2 separate regions of the Homo sapiens genome follow, and region 1 is linked to region 2. Evidence: fine-mapped expression QTL. A gene starts in region 2. The other region holds a variant in brackets. All regions are shown on one strand. Distances are from middle to middle. Region 1 overlaps FKBP1A-SDCBP2 (FKBP1A-SDCBP2 readthrough (NMD candidate)). Region 2 holds the start of SDCBP2-AS1 (SDCBP2 antisense RNA 1).

Evidence for each region. PIP is the estimated chance that this variant, and not a neighbour inherited with it, causes the effect.
Region 1: its variant is fine-mapped to the expression of SDCBP2-AS1 in whole blood (TOPMed, PIP above 0.99).

What each region holds. Positions count from the first base shown.
Region 1 is chr20:1,359,390-1,364,769 of GRCh38, forward strand. All of the region lies in intron 2 of FKBP1A-SDCBP2 (FKBP1A-SDCBP2 readthrough (NMD candidate)), which reads right to left. All of the region lies in intron 1 of SDCBP2-AS1 (SDCBP2 antisense RNA 1), which reads left to right. Among named protein-coding and RNA genes, the nearest start is that of MIR6869, 31 kb to the right of the region's middle. The variant C/G (reference allele first, on the strand shown) is at 2,500.
Region 2 is chr20:1,323,192-1,328,571 of GRCh38, forward strand. SDCBP2-AS1 (SDCBP2 antisense RNA 1) reads left to right here and starts at 2,152. Exons shown (of 3, transcript NR_040049.1): 1 at 2,152-2,338. All of the region lies in intron 1 of SDCBP2 (syndecan binding protein 2), which reads right to left. The region is part of intron 2 of FKBP1A-SDCBP2 (FKBP1A-SDCBP2 readthrough (NMD candidate)); the gene reads right to left. LOC124904856 (a long non-coding RNA gene) reads left to right here. Exons shown (of 2, transcript XR_007067487.1): 2 at 675-1,178. RefSeq lists enhancers at 2,214-2,443, 2,434-2,728.

The DNA.
Region 1 (5,380 bases), 36 kb after region 2:
CTAAAAATACAAAAATTAGCTGGGCATGGTGGCACATGCCTGTAATCCCAGCTACTCAGGAGGCTGAGGCAGGAGAATCGCTTGAACCAGGGAGTCGGAGGTTGCAATGAGCCGAGATCGCGCCACAGCGCTCCAGCCTGGTGACAGAGTGAGCTTCCGTCTCAAAAAAAAAAAAAAGTCTGGTTCCTTTTACTTATTATAATATCTGTGAGATTCATCCATATTGTTGGCATTTCAGTAGTTCATTCCTTTTTATGTTTGTTTTTGCTTTCATTTGAATTGTCACTATCCTATGCTCTTGCCTGACAGACCCTGAGAGCCTACTGACCACAGCAGCTCCTGTTACCACGGCTGCCGTTTCTGCTCTCAATGCTACTGCTCATTGATCCCAGGGAGGAAAATTCTGGTGCATCACTTAGTATTTATTTCAGGTATGGTTAGGACATTTCAGAATAAAGGATGGCTTCTTCTGGATGTATCTGAATTGATCTGCTGTCATATACTTATGAATCACATGCTCAGACCAAAGTACATAAAAAAGTCATTCTCTTTCCAGACAATTTTAGGGGTTTGTAACCTTGGTCTTATATTGCTCCATGGCCTATGAATTAGTAACAGGACTAGTGAAATTCCTAGTAACATAGTCCTGTTACTACAAGATTACCCATATCCTTTGATGATCCATCTACTGCAAACTCATAGAATTTACTGGACAGTCTTCTTCATTTTATGTAAGAATGACCACTGTATCATCATATGTCAATGTCCTGCATAACTGTCACCACCCCTCCATGCCGAATACCTGGTAGCTTGTGATGAGTTGAGAACCTCACTAAACAGTCTTATCCACATCCTCAGGTTCTCTGAGGTTTTCCTTCTGTCCAGTCCATGCACTTGTACCCCTGGTGGTCGAAGTACAGTCACGCACTGCGTATGATGTTCTCATCAGTGGTGGGCTGCATACACAGCAGTGGTCCCATAAAACCATAATGAAGCTCAAAAATTCCTATTGCCAACTGGCATAACGTCATGTAGTGACACATGACCTTTTCTATGTTTAGATCTGTTCAGATACACAAATCCTTACCACTGTATTCCAATTGCCTGTAGTATTCAACAGTCACTGTACAAACCTGCTGTATAGTTTTGTAGCCTAGGAGCTACAGGTTGTACCGTATAGCCTAGGTGTGTGGTAGGTAGGCTATACTATACAGATTTGTGTAAGTATACTCTATGATGTTCACACAATGGTGAAATCTCCTAATGACACATTTCTCAGAATGTCTCCCCATCACTTTGGCCAGCTGACTCAGTTTGTGATGGCAATTGTGAGACCAGTTGAAGGGCGATCTGACCTGTATATTCTCTTGGTTAATTGTATTTACAAATTGGATACATGATTTCTCTGATTGCTCTCTTCACAAACTACATTTGAATATACAAATGAAGTGCTAAGTGGTTTTTATACAGGGAAACAAAGCCAGTTTTGTTTTCTACCAATGCAAGTTTGGATAAATTCTTTTCAAGAAGATGACTAAATATTTCCCATTTAGCAAAGTCCTCAGATAAAGAGATGCCAGGTATTTCTCGTTATGTTGGTTTCTGTATTACTATCTGTTCAGACACAAGCGTCCTTAAAAATGTGCTTAGTTGTAATTTCTTCATAGATTTCAACCAAAACAACATATTGCAAGATTGAATGCAGAAGTAGATGTGAGAACTCATTCTATTAAGCCAAGCGTAAATGTTTAAAAATGTAAAATAATACCACTCTTCTGATATGTTTTGGGAGAAAATATGTTTGTGGAAAATATACCTATCAAAGAAATATCAGAAACCTTCCAAACTGAAGGACATGTGTATCCAGATTAAAATGACCTTCCAAATGCTTAACATAGTAAACAAAAAACAGGAGGAAAAGGAGGGGAGAAAAGAAAAAAAGAAGACTCACACAAGGCCGTGTTACGACATTTCATCATACCATAGATAAATCAGATCCTGAAAGATTTCAGAAAGGAATATGAGATCACACATAAAGGAACAGGAATCAAAATGACATTACCCTTCTCAACAACACTGGAAGCTCCAAGAGAGTGCAGCAATGCTTTCATCCTCAGAGAAAATAATTATCAATACAAAATAATATTCCCAGCTAAGCTATCAATCATGAGGGTAGAAGAAAGGCATTTTTAGCCATTGCGTGGGAGTGCTATAATAATGGTCCCAGTGAACCACACCTCCCTGTATCCGCACCACTTTGCAATGAGAAATTTGCTGTTTCTCCTAGTGAGAGAGGGAGTCTATTTCTTTACCCTTGGGCCTGGGCTGGCCTGGTGACTTGTTTTGACCAATACATGGAAGAAGTGACATTATGTGAGTTCTGCAGCTGAAGCTTTAAGAGGCCTTGAAGTTTCTCCTCACCTTCTTGGAACCTTGAGACCACCATGCTGTGAGAAGCCTGGGCATATCTACTGGAGGCCGAGGGGCCACATGACACGT[C/G]TAAAACTCATACGTCAAGATATGGTAATATAATGTGAAATTCCTAGAGCAGCTTAATGCTAGTCTCTATTTGGCTACCTTTTTCTTTAGAATTGCTTATATAGTTAGTGTATGAGATTTTTTGTTATATTTTGCAAATATTTTCTCTCCATTATAGCTCATCATCTTTTAGCTTTGTTTATGGCATGTTTTTATGATAGAGAAGTTTCATTTTTTATTTTTAAGTGGTTACATCTATTAATAATTTCCTTTGTGTCTCTGAGGTTTTGTTGCTTAAGAAGGACTTCTCAAAGATTTAACCTTATTTTTTACTTAAAGAGCAAAAAAAAAAACAAAAAACAAAAAACAAAACACGATCACAATATAAGCCAGTATAAGCAACTGGTTCGTGCAGGATGGTGGTAGTTATCAAAGAGAGCGGGGGGTCTAAAGCTCTAAGGAGTCGTCTGGAGAAAGCCAGGCAGAGACTTGCTGCTTTTCTATTCTACTTCTTTCCCTTCTCATCCAGCTTGAAAGCTGCACCCATCAAGTGCGTCCTGAATCTGACGATTCACTATCTTCACTTCCGCCAGTCTGCTCCAGGCCTCCATCCTTTCTGGCCTAAATGAACCCCAAAGCTGGCTTGTGTCCTGCATCCATCCACCACTCTTGCCCTTGTTTCACTTATCTATTGCTGTGAAATAAACTTCAAAACCAAGTGATTCAGTCTCACAACTCTGGTTTTCCTGGGCTGAGTGGGGTGGTTCCTCTATTCATGTGATGTGGCTGGAGCTGTGGGCATTTGTGGGCTTGAATGGGCTGAGTGTTCACCGTGGTTCATTCACATGGTGGCAGCTGGCTAGGTTCTCAGCTAGGACGATGGCCTCTCCATGTAGCTTGGGCTCAGAGCTAGTGTTCTGAGAAGGAAGTAGAAGCTGGCAGTCCTATTGAGGCCTGGGCTTGAAGTCCCAGAACATCCTTTCCCACTGCCTTGTAATGATCAAAGTAGTCACAAGGCCAGCCTAGATTCAAGGGCTTGGAGGAATACTACCTTTCAGTCAATTTCCCAGTTTCCAGAGGATTTTAAAAAAACAAACGGCTCGACACAGTGGCATGTGCTACTCGGGAGGCTAAGGTGGGAGGATCGCTTGAGCCTGGGAGGTTGAGGTTGCCGTGAGCTGTGATTACACCACTGCACTCCAACCTGGGTGACAGATCAGACCTTGTCTCAAAACACTCTCCCCAAAACAAATAGACATAATTCTCCTGCTGGAATCCACTGCTCACTAGACTTACATTGTAATAGCCTGCCTCACCTGGCCCCTGCCTAACTCTGTCCCTCACACCTTTGCTCTGTCTCTAAAGGTCATACTGCTGTTTCCCCAGCACCCCAAACTCACCACCCTTCAGGGACTTAGCCTAGAACAATTTTCCTCCAGGACTTCACTTGGCCACTTCACTCCATTGCTTCCAGACGGCTGGCATTATTTGCCCATCTGTTTTGGGTCTCCTTCACTGGCATGAATGTAAGGTCCTTGCCAGCAGCACTTTTCTGTCCTATCCTACATTCACTCTTAGCATCTAGAATGGTGTTATCACAGGAAAGGCATAAAAGTATACTCTGTGGTTAACTGAATTTACTTGCCTAAATCTTGGGCATGTGATGCTTTGAGAAATATACAAATTAATGTTAAACAGAACCACAGTGGTCAGTAACAGGCACATCCAAGGATACACTAGTCCTGCATACATACCCACTGGCATGTTTCTACCTTCCTAATAAGAGCTGACAGCCGTTTTGCTGCATGCTGTACAGGACAGCTGCTGCTGCAAACTCAGCCTCTGATGGGCCCATAGTCGATGTGCCCACTGCATGCCTTGAACTCAGGGAATTCAGACGAAATCATCACACACTCCAGCCAGAAGCTAGAGGGCTGCCGGCCTTGACATTTTAATGCATTTTTGGTGTCAGCTGCCCTTCACTGATTCACTCAATTCTAGAGGTCTGAATGAGAATCCCTACACGCTTCTCAGGGGTTCTGAAGAAGCCAGTGTAGCCCAAGGTCATCAACCCAAGTGAACCCACATTTATCCAGGAAGCAAGAGGTGTGGCAAGGGCAGAATTCTAACAGACATCCATTCCACATGTGTCAGAGACAAAACTAAGTCCAAGATAAAATCGACAAAGGCTATTTATTCATAAACGTGCAGCAGGGGAACCCTTCTGCTGAAACCTTTGTTTTGGTAAGTGTTCAGAGGTGTTAAGACGTTATAGAGTAAAAAGGAGAAATACTGACAGTGTTGACTTGGCAAATGTCATATAAGGGTAGGATTTGTGGAAGCAAGCCAAGAGACAAAGTGGTCTTCAAGTACATTTGACTTGATTAGCTTCAAGGAGGCAGGTGAGCAGTCTGGGACCATTTCAAAAGAGGAAAGGGGCGGAGAGTTTTCTGTGGCCAGCCATTTCCTGGAAAAAGTGATGGTTGATGGGATGCTTTTTTGCAGTCTATCATCATGGTTCTTAGGGGTGTAAAAAGTAAAGTGAGGTTCCTCTTCAAAGACTTTCCTCCCTGTCTAATTAAGAATAAATAGTAACTTCTCTTAGGAGCAAAACTTATTCAAAGACCTGTGCTAACATTCTTAAATATCTGCTAGCCGTAATAAAGAAATCAATGTACTTTATGTTCTTAGCTCCCACAATTTAGCCTATTTGCCCTGGCAATGCTTATACTGGTCCAAGCAAGCATTAGGTCATAGCCTGTTCCTCTTCCTTATCTGAAGGTGTTTTTACGTTTCTCAGCATTCCACAAGTTACTTCCTCCTTCATTCTCCTCTGCCTTTGCCTCTTTTAAAAAGTTCTAAGTTGCTAGCCAATCAGGACAAATACAGAATGTGAGGTCCC
Region 2 (5,380 bases):
AGGGGAGGGAGTCTGGCTCTGACTTCCTTTAGACCACCTGGGGGAAGAGACCCCTTTGCTTATAGCCTTCCCCACTGTGTACACACACTATGAGATTTTTAATCTTGGGACAGTCCTGAGCAGCTATCATCTGCCAAAACATGACCTGCCACCAGGACCACGCATGAACAGCAGATGCGAAAATAAGCAGCCACTCCTGCCCTGATTTTCCTAACATTTAACCAGTAGAGCACTTATATTTTTGTCAGCTGTCCCCTGGGAGAGCAGGGAGTCAGAGATCCATTTCCTGGAAATCACTCCCGGGCCAGATCACATAACCCTTTTTCTGTGTCTGAGATCCTTTCACCACTGCCACCTTCTCTGGATCCCATCTTAGTGCTGGGATGCGGGGAAGTGAGAAAACAGGTACAGTCGTTCCTTGGGGTAGGTTCCAGGACAATGCCCCTCACTCCCCATCCCTCGGATACCAACATCCACAGCTGCTTATGTCCCTTACATAAAGTGGCATAATATTTGCATATAACTTATGCACATTCTTCTGTATACTTTAAATCATCTCTAGATTACTTACAATACCTAATGCAATGTAAATGCTAAACAAAGTTATATTTTATTTTTATTTGAATTTTTGTTGTTTTTTTTAATTTTTATTTTTAAATATTTTCTGTCTACAGTTGGTTGGATCCATGGATGTGAAACCTGGGGATAGGAAAGGCATACTGTATCCCCTGCCTTGTAGCAGCTCACAATATAATGGGGAATGGTTCCCTGCCAGCGAACATGCTGTGTTTCGTTCAATCATTCAAAACATTTGAGTGTCCACTGTGTGCCAGACGTGCTGGTCCCTCTGCTGTGCACATCATCCTCCTTGGTGTGATGCTCCTTCGAGGCTCAGTTCAGATGCTACTTCTCTGCTTGGCTTTTCCAGACTGCATGATACCCAGGCTGCCTGGCTGGGTCTTCCCATGTATTCCACCCCTGACCTGTACTGCCCCTGTTGCCAAGCTATTTATCAAATTATGTGATTAATATCTGGGTATTTTCTTACACTGGACCTCACTCATAAGGGCAGGAGCTCTGTCCCGTTCACACACGATCCTTCCCCGCCACGGCACTGCCCAGCACACATATGCTAGCAAAAATTATTTGACTGAATAAATCAGTGGTTTTCCAAGGAACAGATTGGAAATTTATGTGGGCATTTTTGGGTGTCACGAGACTGAGGGGACAGTCATATCCCTGTCGGGGGTGGGGGGGGCAGGGATATGAAACTCCTGTAATGGATGGGACAGTCCATTACAGTCACCATAACAAATGGTCCTGTCCCGCACAACTTTCAGATATCCTGCCAAACTTTCAAGTAAGCCAAAAATCCGTTATAATTGGTTGTACATACAATCACAATGAATTTTTCCCTAGTTTTAGTACACACTAGACTGTCTGGAAATGCATATATCAGGTTGGTTGTGGGGAGTTACACTTTGCTCACCATTCTGGAAAATCGCTGCCCACCCTGCTCCCCACGGGTGAGTCACCCGAACAGCATGCTCACGTCTGTGTACATGTGTAGCTGTCACAGTGACTCCGCGCTTTTATATAAATATATTTAGCCTTTGACTCAAGATGTCAGATATAAACTGTTGGCAAAATTCAGCTGAATATTGTCTTCTAGTAAACCTAAGCTGATTCCTAAGTTGGGTACAAGCGTGATCGGGTGTAAGCCAGCCTCAGCTTTTACAAAGTGAAATGCATATTCTTTTATTAGAAATTACTTTCATGTCCCTGCCTTCTCCTTATAAACAAAGGGCATCATATTGATTTTTTACCCGGGGAACCATCACCTGGGCTGCAGCCTCAGGACGAACCTGTGCCTTCCCTCTGTCTCAATTTCCTGCTTTGGGAAATAGGAGCCACAAGCCACAAACTCCATCCACCGCGCCACAGGAGCGAGGTCCAACGCAACGGTCCCTAGGGCCTGCCTCCAACCCAGCCTCAGTTTCCTATCTGTCACATCGTTCTATGATCTCGAAATGACTATAACCCCTTTCTTAGCCCCAAACCAGCCGGAAGCGACATCTTCCGGTTGCTACAGGTTACGGCGGTTGCTATGGGCTACGGCGCCTGCGCAGAAACACCGCCAAGCGACTCAGCAACTTCTAGAGCGCATGCGTTTCGCCCACCCAGGCCCGGGCGCGGTTAGGGGTGACTCCCACGATCCCTAGCGGCTGCAGAGTGGAACATGGCGGCCTCCTTGCCGCTTGCGTTACCAGAGTCCACCCGGCCTCGTGCTTTCTCCGGGCGCCCGTAGCTGGCGCCGGCATCCACAAAAATAGATCAGGTAAAGCAGCAGAGTAAGGCATAGGAAGACTTGGTCGGGCTCCGCGGCCCCTCTTTACCGGATTGGAGGCTGCGCGGGTGAAATCGAGCTTTAAACTCCCCTGGCCTCGGAACACCATTTGTAGCCTCTGAAGGAGGAGGACTTATAAGATTCTGTACTAAGGCAGCCGTGGGAAGGGAGGAGAACCAGGTCGGCCCGCGCGCTCCCGGCTGCTTTTGCTCTCCCTTTGGTTTCGAAAGCGTCAAGTCCCAAGGTATTTCCTACCAATTGTGACGTCACCCTTCCTCCCCCGTTTCTCACCCGTTTCTTGTCTGGCCGTGACTTCTGACCCAGTGTTGAGCTAAAAATGCCCCGCCCCACCCTACGCAGATTCACCCCGCGTCCCACCCACCAGTGACTGAGTGACTGGGCTTCTGCTGCCTAGGGAAGGGTTCTTGGCTTGGCCGGGCAAATCAATTCCCACAGCAAAATCAGACCGAAAGCCTGTTATGAGGGACTCAGGCAGTTGGATGTGGCGTATAGGAGGAAGGCTAGGGCAATCAGGAAGGTCTCCTGGAGGAAGGAAGAAGACCCTGACTGGGCCGTGTAGGATGGATGTTCAAGTGGGAAGAGAGTGTGCTATTCCAGGGACAGGGAGGCCCAGGCCTGAGAGTCCAGTTGCCTTCTGGATCCCGTTTACCTCGCAGATTATCCAAACTGGACTCGTGATTTTCCCCAGCTGTGCCGCGCCTCCCCAGCGGTCTCACTGAATCCACCCATGGGCTATGTCAGAAATCTGGGAGTTATCCTCAGCTCCTCCCTTTCCCTTCTGAAGCCATACCTACTTCTTGCCCTCAAATCTCTGTGACCTGACTTCTGGTAATGTTTCCATTCTCACCATCTCATTCTTCTCCACACTTATCATGAAGTTCATTTATTCCAGACTACTTTAGGTTGAGTCCTAAAAGTCAGCCTGCTAGTTCATGCCTCCATGCTTTTGCAGGTGCTATTCCCTCTGTCTTAAGAGTCATTCATGCCTTCTCTCTTTTCCTTGTTGTGAACTCTTTTTCCTCCAATTTAAAGCTTTCCCCCACCTGTACGCATGGAGATTGGCAAGCCTCCCTTCTCTAGACGACAGCATTTCTTGTATTTGCCTCTTCATCATATATTCCACAAGTGTTTGTTAATCACCTACTATGAGCAAGGCCTTCTGCATTTCCTAGGTTGGATTTCCACTGTGCTGTGTTTGTTTGCTCATCTCCCTCACTGGTCAGGAAATGTCACTCATTTGTTAACCCCCAGTGCTGAGCACAGTGCCTGGCACACAACAGGCATCCCATTACTATTTCTGAAAGGAGTGGAAAAGCAGGCACAGAGAGAAGAGAAAGCCTGATATCCTAAATATACAGTCTTTCTTCCCATGCCTGTCTGTGTTTGCAGTCAATAAGTAGAAAGTCTTTCGAAGAATAACCTGGGCCTGGAAAAGGAGAGAAACCATGGCCCTAACGAGTTAGGTTGAAAGGCTGCCTGGCTCCTATAATCTGACAGTGGAAGTTTGCTCAGTTCTGTGCTGATGGCTTCCCACAAGTAATTGGTTCCTCCGAAAGGAAAAGAACCCACCTAACCCCTCTCTCTCAGAGGAATTTTCCTCTCCCACAGCCCTTTCCAGATTTCCATCCCTGAGCTTCTGTACTTTTTGATATAAGCAATAACAACACCCACAACAAACCAATAGCTGGGCTTCGGAGATCAGCAGGGCTGACAAGGGGACTTCAGCCCCCATCTTTGAACTTAGAGTGAGAACACTCTTTGGAACACTTTGTTCCAAAGAGCTGAAGTGATGGAACTCCCACTCGTTCCTGTGGACAGCTCATCCGTCCTTTACAAGACAGTGCGCGGGAGGGAAGCGTGGGTTAGAGTGTCAGAGGAATAGCTCCTGGAAGGCCAAATTAGCCCAGGGATGTGGTGAGTCGGAATAGAAGAAGCTGTTGCTAGGCCACCAGCATGTACCCCCACTCCTCCTCTCAGTGCTGCACTGCCTGCTGGGGAAAAGCTGTGACTTCCTCAAGCAGACACGCCTGAACCCAGGCCCAGGCAGGGCAGGGTTCAGACTGACTGCTTCTGACTTGTGAGAGCACAGCATAGGCAAATCCCCTTTGAATGTCATTTCTTCCTTTGTAATCTGGATAACAATAGTTGCATCACAGTTGTCTGGAGACTGAAAGATTTTTAAAAAGAGTTAAGGTGTATATGGAAAGCATTTAGCACAGCACCTAGCACATAATAGGCATTCAGTAAAAGTTAGCTGTTTATTCATTGTTTCAGCGCTTACTTACTCAGCACCTGCTAAGTCTGAGTACTGTTCTAGGTATCAGCAGTGAAGGAAAGAAGACTTGGTCCCCAAATGTACTTTCTTTGGGGGAAGAGCTGGATAAATAGGCTTTGTGACTCTGTGTGCTGTGTTAGATGGTGGGAGGCACTGGAGAGAAAGAGCAGGACGGAGGGTCATGTCAGGAGGTTCAGAAGCCTTGCTGGCTGGGTGGGGTGACATTTGAGGAAAGGCCTAATGGGGTGGGCACGGCCATTGCAGAGCCTCTCAGGTGGGAGTTGGTGTTGTGTTTAGAGGACATCTGCCAGTGAGAAGCCAGTTGTGCAGAGAGGGAGTAAGGAGGAGTAGTGGGGAGGAAGCTGGAGAAGTGAGAGGGGCCAGATCCTGGAGGGCCTGGAGGTCATGGTGAGGACTTTGGCATTTACTGTAGTGAGATGGGAGCCACTGGGGGATTTGTAGCAGCAGAGTGCCAAGGTCCAAGGGTTATTTTGACAGGCCTCCTCTGGCTGATGTTTGGAGGATGGGCTACAGGGCAGGAGTGGGAGCAGGAGCCCAGGTGGGAAGTGATGGTGGTGGAATTGTCATGAGCTTGGGCCACTGTACGTGAAGCTGCCTGTCCAGTGCTCGCCCAGCCCATACCAGGCTCGTTTTCTGCCCCATTTTCTGAGACCCTGCTGAGGAGGGCATGCACTGGCTCCTGTGTCCAGTATGTCCTTCCATTCTCCTGACTTTGT